Linked DNA regions of Homo sapiens: all the other regions are reported to be linked to region 1. The links are microRNA targets in miRTarBase. Many come from high-throughput screens and were not tested one by one. Region 1 holds a microRNA gene; each other region holds the end of a gene's coding sequence.

Region 1 (4,000 bases):
ATTTTGGCCACCAGCTGTGGGGTGTTTTCACTGTCTCCCATAGTGTCTACACTGGCTCCTATGACCACTGTCTATGTAAACACCCCACTTTTTCTACACTGGTTCTCCTAGGCACTCTCTAAAGTGCCCCCTGACACTGTCTACACTGACTCCCTGGAGAACTGTCTGCATTCACCTCCCACATTGTATCGACCAGTTCCCCTGAGCCACGATCAACTGTCTCCGCCGGGTGCTAGTTGCATTGATCTTCTCACATTGTTTGTGCTGGCTCCCCTAAGCAGTGTCTGCAGAGTCCCCCAGTGTAGTCTCCATGTTCCTCTGCCCAATATTGTCTACACTGGCTCATCTACAGGCTATCCAGTCTCACCCCACATCACCACACTGGCCTCCTTGTGTTCTGTCTGCACAGCCCCCTGACAGCATCTGTCCTGATTCTCCTGCACAGCGTTACCTCCACCAGCTCCCTCATGGCATCATCGACATTGACACCCACACATTTATCTCCACTGACAGCCCCAGGACTCTCTAACCAGTGCTGTCTAACAGAAATAGCATGCAAGCTGCATATAGGATTTTAAATTCTCCAGCGGCCACCCCATTAAAAAATTAAAAGAAAGAGGCCAGGCACGGTGGCTCACGCCTGTAATCCCAGCACTTTGGGAGGCCGAGGCAGGTGGATCACCTGAGGTCAGGCATTCAAGACCAGCCTGATCAATGTGGTGAAACTCTGTCTTCACTAAAAAATACAAAAATTAGCCAGGCACGGTGGCGGGTGCCTGTAATCCCAGCTACTCGGGAGACTGAGGCAGGAGAATCACTTGAACCTGGGAGGCGGAGATTGCAATGAGCGAGATTACGCCATTGCACTCCAGCCTGGGCAGCAGAGCAAAACTCCATCTCAAAAACAAGAAAAGAAAGAGATGAAATTTATTTGTTTATTTATTTATCTATTTATTTATTTGAGACGGGGTCTTACTCTGTCACCCAGACTGGAGTGCAGTGGCACAGCTCCCTGCAGCCTCAACCTCCTGGGCTTAAGTGATCCTCCCACCTCAGCCTCAGTCTCCTGAGTAGCTGGGACTACAGGCGTGTGACACCATGCCTAGCTAATTTTTGTTTTTGTTTTTGTTTTTGTTTTTTTGTTTTGTGATGAAGTCTTGCTCTGTCACCCAGGCTAGAGTGCAGTGGCACGATCTCAACTCACTGCAGCCTCCGCCTCTCGGGTTCAAGTGATTCTCCTGCCTCAGCCTCCCGAGTAGCTGGGATTACAAGCCCTGGCCACAGTGCCCAGCTAATTTTTGTATTTGTGGTAGAGACGGGATTTCACCATGTTGGCCAGGCTGGTCTCAAACTCCTGACCTCGTGATCCACCCACCTTGGCCTCCCAAATTGCTGGGATTACAGACGTGAGCCACCGCACCCGGCCTATTTTTATTTTTTCTGGAGACAGGATCTCCCTATGTTGCCCAGGCTGGTCTCAAACTCCTGGGCTCAAGTGATCCTCCTGCCTCAACCTCCCAAGGTACTGGGATTACAGGCATGAGCCACTGTGCCTGGCCAAAATTAATTTTTAATAATTGCCTTTACTTAACCCAATATACCTAAAATATTATTTCAACTTGTAATTGTTTTTTTAAAATTATTCTTGAGATCTTTCCCATTTATTTTGTCCTAGTAAAGCCTTTGAAATCTGGTGTGTATTTCGGCCTGGCTATATTTCGAGTGCTCAGTAGTCACATGTGGCCAGTAGGTGCCATATTGGACAGCACAGATCTAGACTAAGCTCCCACATCATCTACACTGGCTCATCCAAATACTGTCTACACACATACACAGAGCCTGTCTTAATTTCGTCAGCTCCCGGGGACACACTGTATATGTGGGGGTGATCTCACCCCCACCACCACATTTTCAACACTGGCCCGACAATATAGCATCTGCTGTAATATTCCAACACCCTGTCTACACTGAACCCATCAGTAATATCCACACAAGCTCTTCTAGACATCATTCATACTGTTCCTCCCACCATTGTCTATACTGCTTACTCCCCGCCAGGCAATTGGTACACAGATTCCCTCAGGTACTGTCTATACTGGAGTCCCTCAACACTGTCACTGGGTCTGAGCGAGGAGGAGATCTACACTGACTCCTACCCCTCGCCCCCGAATAAAACCCTGTCCCATTGGCCTGCCCCCAAGGACATTGAAAGGTCTTCGCTGTCAATCACGTATGGGATGGCTGAGCAGCAGCCTAGAGCAGGGTTATCTGGGACTCTTTCCTGCAGGACTTGTCAGAACCTTGAATACACTGCTGTGTGTTGTGAGTGGTCATTGCCTATGAGTGAGAAAAGGAGGAGGCATTTTCCTGCAGGACACCCAAGACATGCCTGGTCCAGGCTACCCAGGAAAGCTAGTGGAGAAAAGCAGCTCCTCAGAAGCCTTCTCCATGTCCCCACTGACCAAGGACTCCTAGGCTTCTGCTCTCTGTGGCACCCCATCTACCTAGACTCCTCCTAGGCCTCTCCAGCTCCCGCTGTTTTCCAAATATCCCCGGGCCTTTTCCTGCAGTGTCGTGAATCCCGCGTAGCCCCAGGCCCCCCAAAGCCTCCCAGTCTCTGAACCTCTGTATCCATTTCCTGCAGACCCCCCAGAGGTATCCATCTCTGGCTATGATAACAACTGGTACCTTGGCCAGAATGAGGCCACCCTGACCTGCGATGCTCGCAGCAACCCAGAGCCCACAGGCTATAATTGGAGCACGTGAGTCCTGGGTCTCAGGGAGGAGGGGCTGGGGGTCTGGATTTCTAGCACTGAGGGAGGAGGGGCTGGGGGCCTGGACTCCTGGGACTGAGGGAGAAGGGGCTGGGGGCCCGGACCCCTGGGTCTGAGGGACGAGAGGCTGGGAGCCCGGACTCCTGGGTCTGAGGGAAGAGGGGCTGGGGGTCTGGACCCCTGGGACTGAGAGAGGAGGGGCTGGGCCTGGACCCCTGGGTCTGAGGGAGGAGGGGCTGGGGGGTCTGGACCCCTGGGTCTGAGGGAGGAGAAGCTGGGAGCCTGGACCCCTGGGTCTGAGGCAGGACAGACTGGGGCCTGGACTCCTGGTCTAAGAGAGGAGGGAGATTCAGAAAAGAGAAAAAGAGGAGGTTGACTTCGGGCCCCCAGTGGGGGGCATCTCTGTTTTGACATCTCTGTTTTGCGGTTGAGGCGTTTAGCAGGTGGTTGAATCCTGGCTGGTGGATGCACCTGCTTTTTGGGGTGTGCCTGCTCTGTGCCCGGTACTTCCCCCGAATCCCATGTGACCCCATGCTGTGCACAGTCAGCAGCTGTTGCCCTGCCCAGGTTAAAGACCAGCCACGAGAGGGCAGAAGCGGCCCTTGAATCAGCGCTCGGCTCCAAAGCTGGTCCTCCGCCTCTTGGCCAAGCTTGTCTAACCTGCAGGCCACATCATTTGTAAACTTTCTTAAAACATTATGAGACTTTTTTTTTGCGAATTTTTTTAGCTCATTAGCTATTGTTAGTGTTAGTGTATTTTATGTATGGCCCAGGACAGTTCTTCTTCTTCCAATGTGGCCCGGGGAAGCCAAAAGATTGGACACCCCCACTCTAGACTGTAACCACCTCACCGTCACCTTGTGTAACCTACTTGGTTATCTCTGGATGGAGCAAGTACTATATATCCCCATTGTCTAGATGAGAAAGTTGAGGCTCACAGCAATAAGATTTCCCCAGATTCACACTGAGGCTGAGATCAAGAGCAAGGTAAGAAAAAGGCAAAGAGATAATACATAATTTTATAATACATAATTTTACATAAATTACATAATTTTACTGAACCGCCCTTTTTTTTTAAAGAAGGGGCTCTGTTGCCGAGGCTGGAGTGCAGTGGCGTGATCATAGCTCACTGCAGCCTGGACCTCCCTGGGCTCAGGTGATCCTCCCACCTCAGCCTCCTGAGTAGCTGGGACTACAGGCACACGCCACCACACTCAGCTAATTTT
Region 2 (4,000 bases), not on the chromosome of region 1:
AGTTGAATCTCTGAATAGAAAAATAACATGCTCTGAAATAGAGGCAATAATTAATAGCTTACCAACCAAAAGAAGTCCAGGACCAGATAGATTCACAGCTGAATTCTACCAGAGGTCCAAGGAGGAGCTGGTACCATTCCTTCTGAAACTATTCCAATGAACAGAAAAGGAGGGAATCCTCCCTAACTCATTTTATGAGGCCAGCATCATCCTGATACCAAAGCCTGGCAGAGACACAACAAAAAAAGAGAATTTTAGACCAATAACCCTGATGAACATTGATGCAAAAATCCTCAATAAAATACTGGCAAACCGAATCCAGCAGCACATCAAAAAGCTTATCCACCATGATCAAGTGGGCTTCATCCCTGGGATTCAAGGCTGGTTCAACATATGCAAATCAATAAATGTAATCCAGCATATAAACAGAACCAAAGACAAAAACCACATGATTATCTCAATAGATGCAGAAAAGGCCTTTGACAAAATTCAACAGCCTTCATGCTAAAAACTCTCAATAAATTAGGTATTGATGGAATGTATCTCAAAATAAGGAGAGCCCTCTATGACAAACCACCAGCCAATATCATACTGCATGGGCAAAACCTGGAAGCATTCCCTTTGAAAACTGGCACAAGACAGGGATGCCGTCTCTCACCACTCCTATTCAACATAGTGTTGGAAGTTCTGGCCAGGGCAATCAGGCAGGAGAAAGAAATAAAGGGTATTCAATTAGGAGAAGAGGAAGTCAAATTGTCCCTGTTTGCAGATGACATGATTGTATATGTAGAAAACCCCATTGTCTCAGCCCAAAATCTCCTTAAGCTGATAAGCAACTTCAGCAAAGTCTCAGGATACAAAATCAATGTACAAAAATCACAAGCATTCTTATACACCAATAACAGACAGAGAGCCAAATCAGGAGTGAACTCCCATTCACAATTGCTTCAAAGAGAATAAAATACCTAGGAATCCAACTTACAAGGGATGTGAAGGATCACTTCAAGGAGAACTACAAACCACTGCTCAATGAAATAAAAGAGGATACAAACAAATAGAAGAACATTCCATGCTCATGGATAGGAAGAATCAATATCATGAAAATGGCCATACTGCCCAAGGTCATTTATAGATTCAATGCCATCCCCATTAAGCTACCAATGACTTTCTTCACAGAATTGGAAAAAACTACTTTAAAGTTCATAAGAAACCAAAAAAGAGCCCGCATTGCCAAGTCAATCCTAAGCCAAAAGAGCAAAGCTGGAAGCATCATACTACCTGACTTCAAACTATACTACAAGGCTACAGTAACCAAAACAGCATGGTACTGGACCAAAACAGAGATATAGACCAATGGAACAGAACAGAGCCCTCAGAAATAATACTACACATCTACAATTATCTGATCTTTGACAAACCTGACGAAAACAAGCAATGGGGAAAGGATTCCCTATTTAATAAATGGTGCTGGGAAAACTGGCTAGCCATATGTAGAAAGCAGAACCTGGATCCCTTCCTTACACCTTATACAAAAATTAATTCAAGATGGATTAAAGACTTAAATGTAAGACCTAAAACCATAAAAACCCTAGAAGAAAACCTAGGCAATATCATTCAGGACATAGGCATGGGCAAGGACTTCATGTCTAAAACACCAAAAGCAATGGCAACAAAAGCCAAAATTGACAAATGGGATCTAATTAAACTAAAGAGCTTCTGCACAGCAAAAGAAACTACCATCAGCGTGAACAGGCAACCTACAGAATGGGAGAAAATTTTTGCAATCTACTCATCTGACAAAGGGCTAATATCCAGAATCTACAAAGAACTCAAACAAATTTACAAGAAAAAAAAAACAACCCCATCAACAAGTGTGCAAAGAATATGAACAGATACTTCTCAAAAGAAGACATTTATGCAGCCAACAGACACATGAAAAAATGCTCATCATCACTGGCCATCAGGGAAATGCAAATCAAAACCACAATGAGATACCATCTCACACCAGTTAGAATGGCAATCATTAAAAAGTCAGGAAACAACAGGTGCTGGAAAGGATGTGGAGAAATAGGAACACTTTTACACTTTTGGTGGGAGTGTAAACTAGTTCAACCATTGTGGAAGACAGTGTGGCAATTCCTCAGAGATCTAGAACTAGAAATACCATTTGACCCAGCCATCCCATTACTGGGTATATACCCAAAGGATTATAAATCATGCTGCTATAAAGACACATGCACACGTATATTTATTGCGGCACTATTCACAATAGCAAAGACTTGGAACCAACCCAAATGTCCATCAATGATAGACTGGATTAAGAAAATGTGGCACATATACACCATAGAATACTGTGCAGCCATAAAAAATGATGAGTTCATGTCCTTTGTAGGGACATGGATAAAGCTGGAAACCATACTTTTCAGCAAACTATTGCAAGAACAAAAAAACCAAACACCTCATGTTCTTAGTCATTGGTGGGAATTGAACGATGAGAACACTTGGACACAGGAAAGGTAACATCACACACTGGGGCCTGTTGTGGGGTGGAGGGAGGGGGGAAGGATAGCATTAGGAGGTATACCTAATGTAAATGACGAGTTAATGGATGCAGCACACCAACATGGCACATGTATGCATATATAACAAACCTGCACATTGTGCACATGTAACCTGGAACTTAAAGTATAATAATAAAATGTACATATATATATATATATATATATATATATATATATATATATATATATATAAATGTTCCAAGAAAACATAGATCAGAGACCACACAAATAGATATAAGCATGTAATAATAAGTAGAAGGAACATTGGGTCAAGAGGGCAGAGTGGAGATTCAGCCTAGAGAGTCTTCCTTGGGCACCAGATTGGGAAATATTTTGCAGAGGTTATGATCATGTCTAGGATATTAAAGGTGCTATTAAGGTATCCAAATCTATCCAAATATAAGATTAAGTAACTGAAGTTCCCAAATGGTGACCAGAACACAGCAGTAGGTGATTTCTCTGAAGTTCAAACGGGTCTGTTGGGAAAAAGAGGACTCCCCATAAGAAGTAGGTCACAGCCCTCAGGGCTGCTTTTCAGAACAGAGCTCCAGTTCCCAGGTAACCAATCCTACAGAGACTATTGTAGGCGTTTGCCTTTCGGAGACTTAGACATTAGGTATGATATAGAAAAAAGATTTCCAAAATCTGAACTACATGATCGGGGACATGAACTTTGTTATCCAAATAGAGGCACTGCAGGAAGATGAGCTATGACTCAGAGAACAACTTGAAACTCGGTAGACAGCAGTGGAACACAGTGTCCTGGGTCAAATTTTCGGCAAAGGGAAATTGGGGCAGAGTTAGGAAATATAGTCTCATTATGAAAACAGCATTTCTTGGACCATGGTACTAGGGAGGGGAACTTAATTCTAAATCATAATATATGGGAGATTAAGTAAAATAAATCCCTTCTTTCTTATCAGTACTAGTGTAGAAAAAGGCAGGAAGAGCCTGTGGTTACATTGTTCCTTTGTTACAAAAAGTTAACAATGAACTTTAGCCTTAGAGAATTTGGAAACTCAGAATCAAAGGAACAAAACTGGGATCTGATTAATAACATTGAAAAGAATCAACATATTAAAAGCATATTATTCTCCTTTATAAATTCATTTGATTGCCCAAATCAATTCATAACTGCCCTCGTTTCAATCAACTACAGACAATCTCTTATTTCTTCAGATGTGTGATTTAGACACTTTAAATCTCTGTGCGGAATTGAAGTGCAGTTTTGGACATTTCTGTCTCATAAATAGCATCAAATTTCTCATTTTGGGCCACGGTGAAGTAATTCTTCCAGTCACCAGCCGTCCCTAAAGGTAAATAAAAAAACATAGGAAAGAATAAAATATTTCCATAAGAAGAAATCAGTATATACCAAAGGAAAAGATTAGAAGGCCTAAAGAAAGACCTTCCTTTTATTTGAATGAATTCAAACAGTC
Region 3 (4,000 bases), not on the chromosome of region 1:
GGGGAAGCTGGCCCCAAGGTGGAGTGGGGCTGGCAACCCTTTTGGGGCCAATCACCTGGAAGAGGGTGGGTCTGAGTAGGCCAGTTCTGGTTGGCTGGAGGCTCTGTCATTTTGTACAGACTCCTCTTCCCTCCCCAGGGGAAGTGTCTTTGGTTCTTGGGAACAGCTGGCAATCAAGGTATGGTGTTTGCCACGCAGGAAAAGCCGTTCTGCACAGAGCCTCAGCCAGATCTGAAGGGCACTCGGCACCTGTGACCTTGGACAGTTCACCTAGTGGAGCCCTTTACCTTCTCAGTAGAATGTACACCAGTACATACACCAGTCACCCAGGAGAGAGAACCATGTAAATTCGTGGATGTTGAACCGTTGTGATTTACTCTGGGCAGTGCTTTTTAAAGTTCCAGTTGTGACCTATCTGAAGGCCGTGTAATGAGTTTAGTGGGTCGTGACCAAGATTTTTAAAATACGAACAGGAATACAATGGAAAATATTCTATATTGTACGTAAGGGTAGGTTTTGTTTCATGAAATGTTTGTTTCAGTTGATAGATATTGAAATGTGTATACAAGTTTGGGAAATATTTCTTTAAATTGTGGATCATGATGGAAATAGGTCTGTGAAATTCAGTGTGAAGTGTAAACAACAGGAATAGCAAATGCCTATTGCAGGTGCACCCTGCAAACTTGCAGCAGGTTGGAGCTTTTCATCTAAAGAAGATGGATACTTATTGGTGTGAATCAAATTCACCACATCTTCTTTTAGGAGTAGGTTTGGTTCCCTCCCTCTTTGCTACACACAACAAACTCAGGTGGGGCCTGGTTTTCATTTTCTTCCATAAAGGGAAAATTAAGGTCCAGAAAGTGAAAAGAACTGCCCAGAGTCCTATAGGCCAGTGGTGCACCTGCGCACGTGGCCTGCACTCCAGCAGCAGGAGAGGCGGCAGCACATGGGGCGTTCGTTCTTGCCTGGGGGCTCCCCAGGGCTCACTCCCCAATCTCAGCATCCTCCTCCTCCCGTCAGCTCAGGGTCCTGCCAGCCATTCCCTGCCTCCTGGGACAGGCTTTCCAGTCCCTAGTTCTACCCCCTGGGGATCAACTAATCAGTGTGTTTCTCCTCCAAGACAGTTCCATTTTAATAGGCTTTCCAAAGAGGAGTTATTAAGATGTGAGTGTTGGTTCTTGAAAGTTACTTTCAAGTAAGTAATTGTCCTTTAGAGACTGTGATTCAGTAGGTTGTGGCCTGACCCTCAAACCACCCCCACCCCTGCTTTTTTTTTAAAAAAAAATAGGGTTTTTGTCTGTCACCTGGGTTGGGGGTGCAGTGGTGCAATCATAGCTCACTGCAGCCTTGAACTCTTGGGCTCAAGTGATCGACCTCAGCCTCCAGAATAGCTGGGATTACAGGTATGCACCACCTTGCCATTTTTTGGTATTTTTTTGTAGATATGGGGTCTCTCTATGTTGCCCAGGTTGGTCTCAAACTCCTGGCCTCAAGCAATCCTCCCACATCGGCCTCCCCAAAGTGCTGGGTTTACAGATGTGAGCAGCCATAACCTAAATTTTTAACAGGTAGAAATGGTCCCTTAGGGAAAAACCTGATGAAGGGGGAGGAGCAGTAAGGCCAAGCTGCCTCTTTTTCCCCTCCCCCCATAGATGTGGGGTAGATTTCACTCCACGCAAGAGGGCACATGGTTATTCTGTGCTTCACCCCAGTCTCATTTCTAGCACAGTGCCTGGTTCAGAGGCATGTGGTCAACACAGGTCACGGTTAGCAGCACACACGTCTAATCCAGCCAGCTCACCTGCCTCTCATTTGCACTTCCACGTTCATGCTTGTGCCTTTGCACTTATGCCTCGGTCTGGAATGCCCTTTCTCCTTCTTTATTCAAGGCTTAGATGCCTCATCTCTGCCCTAATCATTTTCTATTTGAGCATGCAAAAGTGCTCAGTGAACCAAAGCCATCCCAAGGCTATTCTGGATGCTGTGCAGCTCTATCGAGAGGTGTGTGCTGGAAGATGGGAGAGTCTGGGTTCTGCCCCAGGTGTCCAGAGGCTGCTAGCCCAACAGTCATCATCTCCCAAGTGGGAATGGCGGGTAGGGGGGCGCAGAGCAGAAAGGGCTTCTGGACCCTCTCACTCCAAGGGACACCGTGTGAAGAAAGCTGGTATCTACCGTGTGAACTGCAGCTGAGGGCACCCTCAAATGACCCAGCTCCAGAAAAGTGTGGAGGATATGCCATCCACTTAAGGTCCCTTCCCCAGCCCAGGGACCCACCTGTCTGTATGGGTGAAAAGTAGCCATTTGGGCCCAGAGACAGGCATTCCTAGGGGAGAAAGGCACCAAAGAGACAGATTTTACAGATTTATTTTTAAAAAACAAAACAAAGGTTAAAAAAGTCCTTCATTTCCAACCCTGCCTGGGGGTGTGGGTGGGGAATAGAATAAGCTCAGAAAGGTGCCTACCTCCTTCCTGCAAAGGACACGGCAGGTCAGAGGCAGGCCCTCGCCCTTTCTGCCCTGCCTCCTCCTCAGGTAGCTCAAATTGCTGCTAGGAAGATTTATAGGCAAAGAAGTGTGGGAGTGGGAGGCCAAGAGCTGCCTTCTTCACATCAACAGAAACTCCAGCTGTTCTTTCCCCTTAGCAGTTCTCTGAGCCTCACCACTGGGACTCCCAGGGTGGGCGGGCAGGCAGGCCAGGAGGCTCAGCCCTTTGGGCTATGTTGCTCAGACCACCGCAGCTTTCTTAATGCTCTTTGTGAACCAGGAGGGCGGTCAGGGGAACTTCACAGTGCGGGGAGGGGTGTCTGGAAAGGAAACTCTGAAGCGCCGTCTCTTTCTGACCTTGCCTCTGCGCTGAGGCTGCCATTCTTGGCTATTCCCCATCCTGAGGCTGAGTGGAGTCCAGGACAAAGCACTAAGTGGCTGTTTGCTACAAAACACCTGGAGATGCCAGAGAGTAGCCCTTGGCCTATCTGTCAGTCCAGGCTCCCACACAGTCACACAGTCATACACACAGCGTTAAGGCGTCTGTGCCAGCAGGCACGGCCCGGCTGGGCCCAGCTTCTCTCTCTCCACCTGCAGAGGGTGTAGGGGGGAGAACCCTGGCTGCTGCAGAAACAGGCTGAAGGGGGAGAAGCTGACAACGGAAGAGTTAACCAGGCCTGGAGAAAGAAGTGGGAGGAAGGAAGGCAAGGGCTTTCTAGGCCTCCATCCAGGCCTGCTGGCTGCCCTTGAAGTAACCCAACTCAGGTTGGGGAGCCCTGACCATATACCCCCTGGAAAATGGGGGACAGAAAGAGGGGAAGAGAGCGGGGCTAGAGTATTGGGACTTTGGAGGAAGCCAGTGCTATCAATATTTACAAGCATAAAGCCCCATCTTCTGTGCCACCTACCTCTCTGCCCCTCCCACAGAAATGAAAGGCCCCTGAGAGCCATGGAGGAGGTGCCCAGACCTCCTCACCAGCTATGCCCCTAGGGAGAGCCCCTGCCCTCCAACCGGCCCCATTTCTGGGCCCCTCAGGAATGTCTGTCTGGCTCTGCTCAGTCGGGAGGAGGCGCCCTGGGCCAGAATCCTGGCTGCCACCAGCCCTAGGAGTCCTTGAGCATGCTGATGCGGGCGTAGATCTTCAGGGCGGGCCCCAGCTTGATGTTCATGGCGCTCATCAGGTGGTCCTCCTTGAGCAGCAGCAGGGCTTGCCCGTCGATTTCCTGGGCACGGAATTCCTCTGCTATCTCCTGGCAGCCTGAGGGGGTACCACCAAAGACAGTGTCAATCCAAGCCGCCAGTGTTCACCTCTGGCAGCCACTGCATCTAGTTATCTAGATCTAGTTATCTGCATCCATTATTTCTTTTAGTCCTCATAACCACGCCTTGAGGAAGGCGCTGCTGTTCTTATTTTGCAGCTTGAGAGAGGCTGTGCAACTCACCCACAGCAGCCGCGATCTGGGCCTCCTCCTATGTTCCCCTGTTCAGACCCCTGCTCCATGAACTGGGCGGACCC
Region 4 (4,000 bases), not on the chromosome of region 1:
CTTGTCCTAACTCTATTCTATCCAGGGAAAAAGATTTCTCTTTCCTATAAAGTGCTGAGATTCCTACCATGTAGGGGCCTTCTGCGACCAAGGGGTTGATCACCAGGTAGCTATCTCATGCTGGTATCTCATTAAGCCAGATCCTTGCAAAGTAAAAGATTTTCTTCCATCCCTTTTTCCACTTTTTTTTTTTCTCATTTTTTTTTGTTCTACTCCTCAGCTGCTGCTGGTTCTTGGGAGGCTGCTTTGTTTTGCTATTTTTGAGTTGACTTGCTTAAATAATAAACCCACCCTCTTGTAGAGGATTAAGCAGACAATTAGGAAATCAATCAATCAATTGGTGTCAGCTGCAGGCAGAGGCCGGTGAAAGGCCTCATCTTCCCGGTGGCCCTTTCCAACCTCAAAACCTGCTGAGGCTCTGGGCCGCGCAGGCGGCGGGAGCTCTCAGCTTCATTTGCTTCCATTTCAGAGCCTTGAGGCTGGGACAAATCCAGGAATGGAGAAATGAGGGAGCAGGGAGGAGTGTGTGGCGGCTTCAAAGTTTTGTTCTTGGTGGAGTAGGAAATGAGAGGCTGAGGCAGGGTGGTCAGTGGCTCCTGGCTATGCCATTGCCCAGCTGGCCGGTATGTTGCCAGCTTCCTCTTTAGGAAACATGGGAGGGAAGGCTGCCTGGCCCACCAGTGTGGGGAACGGCTGGGACACAGGTGCCAATTACAGGGCTATTCACTCACCTGGCTGGACTGAGCTGAGGAGGAGAAGAAAAAAGGAGCAGGGAGTGAGGGGCTGGGCCTCTAGAAGCCGAGGCAGCCTTTGTACTTGCAGAGACAATTCCCCCCAAGAGTGAGGGCCGAGCGCAGAAAGTCGCCAGGAACTCTCAGCATGGCACAGTCATCCCGAGGCCCTAGCCCCGCCGGGGAGCACCAACTTGGGGCCCTGGGGACACCTCTCTGGACATCCCTGACACCGTCAGCTAGAGCCCAGGCCTCTCACAGGCCTGGACTTGGGCCGCTTCCCTGGCAGGAGGGGCCCCACACGCCCCCTCACTAGGGTCAGCTTTCTCCCCAGCTAAGAGATTGTGCCTTCAAGCTTTGGCTTCACAAAGAGTGAGAGAAACCGCATGTGGCTTCTCCTGAGAGGGGAAAAGAACTGCGTCTACGGAGGAAGCAGGAAGAGCTCTTTTATCAGTATTTTTAAGAAGGGTTGTTTTAAAGGAGAAAATAAGGTCTTGACTGGAACCCAGGTAGTCTGGAGCTCTGCGTCGGGAACCAGATCTGCCCCCAGATACCCTGACTCACTCCAGAAGACAGCATCTGAGGTCTGTGCTCTCCTTCCTATCACTCCCTGCAGTGGTGGCGGTGATGAGGGTCTTGGGTACCCAACCTTGGAAAGAAGATATCAGGTCTTTCTGATGGCACAGTTACCCGTGCCTCCACTTCTCCCCAACAGAAGCTGGGGCAGCGGTTTGTTTGCAGAGACATAAGACCGGCTTTGCCCAAGCAAATTGGCAGGGCTCCCTCCCTAGGCTGACCCAGCTCACGTAGGACCATGAAAGCCACGTCTGTCTAAGCTGTTAGAACTCCCAGTGCATCCAGGGGGGCTTGGGCACCATTTGAGTTTGGGTGGAGAGCCTGCTGGAGTAGGATGGTGGGGCCTCACCAGGCTTCCAGGTGCCCTAGGACTGGGAATGGTAAAGTTGGCTCAGACCTCTCATATAGAGTGCAAGGTGAAATGAAAGTTGGGGGTTGAGGTGTCAGGTGGGGGATTATAGATTCTAGGCTGGTGACCCAGGCCGAGGTGGGCTTCTTTCTTGGTGGAGAAGAGCAGTCGAGTTGTGCATGAACAATGGCTGATCCGAATTCCATGTGGTGTCTTTGGCTCACTGTCCCGGGCCCTGGTTTGGTCTAGGAGAGTCTGTCTACGACAGGGGGACACGAGGCAGCTTCATCTTCCCTAAACTGATGCATCTGAGGCAGGGGCCCAACTGTTGCCCATGTCCTGATATCCACCTGGAAGGTCTGCAGGGTCATCTTCCTCCAAGATCTCTCCTGGTGAGATCAGAACTTCAGGGAGGTGAAGCAGGGGATCCCATCGCTTCACCCCAAAAACCCACCCAGCCCTAGCAGTAAAAAGGACAGGACACAGCCCTGGGGTACATGTTTATGTGAGTAATAAAATATTTACTATAACATAAATATAAAGGGAACTTCCCAGTCTACATTATTTTTTTTTCAATAAAGATACAAAGAGAATGCACCGAAACATTGTTTCAAAAAATAATAAAAATAAAATAACAAAATTTAAATTCAAACCTTAACAAACAGAAGAAGAAACGGAGAAGGGGGAAGCTCCAAACACATCCAGAAAATAAATAGAGATGGGTCAGAAATTCGGAAATCATATTAAAATATCTTTTTCGGATTAGTCAGTGTACAAAATCCTTTAGGGTAGGAAGGAAGGGTAACCCGGAAAACCAAAAATAAAAACCAAGCACAAAATGTTTCTTCTCCCCGCCAGTGTGTACATATCTCACATATTTACATGGTTCCCACCTCACCCCAAACTTGGGGAATTTCTCTCCCGGCCTCCCCTGGCATCCCGCATCCCGGCGGGCTGGAAAGGGAGCAGAGGGAAGCTGCAGGGAATCAGGCGGAGGGTTCTCAGGGAACGGCTTATTTCTACAGCTGGTTAAAAAACAATCTCTCTAACTTTTCCAAGTTTCGTTTGGTGTGGCCAGGAGGGCAGGGCCCCGCGGGGAGCAGGGGCCGCGCTATGCGGCGGTCGGTCTGCAGCAGGGCAGAAGCCCCTTCCCGTCTGGGTGTGTGGGAGCGCAGACCCCTCCGGCGTGGCCGGGAACCAAGCCGGGGCTCGGATGAAACGAAACGAAAAATGAACACTCGAATTTTTTTTGTTAGTTTTTTTTTTTTTTTTTTGCTTTTTTTTGGGGGGAGGGTAGGGTAGGGAAATATAAGGGGAAAAATAAATTAGGCTAGATTAAAGCTTTGGCTATTTCCTGCTTTTATACACAGACGCGGCTCTCGCGACCTCCCCTCCGGGGCCCCGATAAATACAGTATACTGCGATTTAAATTAAGGGCGCGGGCGGAGTTAGAAGGACCCCAGGAGCCGAGAGGCTCCACGAATAAATAAAAACCGTAAAAAACCAAGCCCGGAGAAAGGGGAAAGCGGGGTGGGGCGCATCCTTATAGGAGAGAAGAGGCGTGTAGCGAATAAAGTGACAGCCCCCCACCCTGGACCCGCAGGCTCAGGAGTCCACGCGGGGAGAGGGGATGGAGAACTCTCCTCGCTTCGTCCTCTCTCCCGGGGAATCCCTAACCCCGCACTGCGTTACCTGTCGCTTTGGGGAGGCCGCTGCCGGGATCCGGCCCCGAACAGCCCGGGGGGGCAGGGGCGGGGGTCGTCGAGGGGATGGGGGCAGAGAGCAGGCGGCGGGCAGGATGCCCGGGGTGAGTTGGCGAGTTCCGGATCTTCGCTCCTCTCTCCCGGGGCTCGGGCGACGCAGCCTACCGGGCTGTCTTCGCCGCTCACCGGAGAGGGTCGTCCGGGTGTTTGGTTTTGTTCGAAAGTTTCTGGGCTTTTTTTTTTTTTTGTAAAATCCAAAGCAACCGAACAAAAAGAGTCCAGGCCGCGCGGGCGGGCTGCGCGCCCGCGCCCTGCAGCGCGCCGGCGGGGGCCCGGCCCGCGGGGTCACTGCACTGAGCCGGGCAGTGTGTGGTGGTGGTGGTGGTGCAGCGCCGCCGGCGGGGGCGGTGGGGGCGCGGAGGGTGGCGATGCGCCGCCCCCGCCAGGCCCTAGCTCCCCAGGCGCGTATACATCGTCCATGGGCGGGTGGCCCGCGCCGGCCGCAGGGGTCATGCGCTTCTCCTTCTGCCGCCGGTTGCAGAACCAGACGCGCACCACCTCCTTCTCCAGCTGCAGGCTGTCTGCCAAGCCGGTGATCTCGTGCGCCGAGGGCTTGGGGCACTTGAGAAAGTGGCTCTCGA

The links. Region 1 holds the annotated microRNA hsa-miR-4531 (AUGGAGAAGGCUUCUGA, at 2,434-2,450, opposite strand). A microRNA usually pairs through its seed, bases 2 to 8, with sites in the 3' UTR of a target mRNA and lowers its output. Matches are read on the target gene's strand: a 7mer-m8 pairs with bases 2 to 8, a 7mer-A1 pairs with bases 2 to 7 and ends in A, and an 8mer does both.
Region 2: miRTarBase lists SULT1B1 as a target of hsa-miR-4531. Seed matches in the 3' UTR shown: 7mer-m8 at 2,061-2,067.
Region 3: the mRNA of PHC2 is a reported target of hsa-miR-4531. Seed matches in the 3' UTR shown: 7mer-m8 at 3,162-3,168.
Region 4: miRTarBase lists POU3F1 as a target of hsa-miR-4531. Seed matches in the 3' UTR shown: 7mer-m8 at 3,288-3,294.

Annotation. Positions count from the first base shown.
Region 1 is chr19:44,651,256-44,655,255 of GRCh38, forward strand. It overlaps MIR4531 (microRNA 4531), which reads right to left and starts at 2,477; the gene lies at 2,431-2,477. PVR (PVR cell adhesion molecule) reads left to right here. Exons shown (of 8, transcript NM_006505.5): 4 at 2,645-2,762. RefSeq lists an enhancer at 3,448-3,507.
Region 2 is chr4:69,723,330-69,727,329 of GRCh38, forward strand. SULT1B1 (sulfotransferase family 1B member 1) reads right to left here. Exons shown (of 8, transcript NM_014465.4): 8 at 1-3,871. The coding sequence ends at 3,759. Among named protein-coding and RNA genes, the nearest start is that of SULT1B1, 35 kb to the right of the region's middle.
Region 3 is chr1:33,321,278-33,325,277 of GRCh38, forward strand. It overlaps PHC2 (polyhomeotic homolog 2), which reads right to left. Exons shown (of 15, transcript NM_001385109.1): 15 at 2,349-3,742. The coding sequence ends at 3,588. Among named protein-coding and RNA genes, the nearest start is that of A3GALT2, 2.2 kb to the left of the region's middle.
Region 4 is chr1:38,041,684-38,045,683 of GRCh38, forward strand. POU3F1 (POU class 3 homeobox 1) reads right to left here. Exons shown (of 1, transcript NM_002699.4): 1 at 2,146-4,000. The coding sequence ends at 3,705. Among named protein-coding and RNA genes, the nearest start is that of POU3F1, 3.1 kb to the right of the region's middle.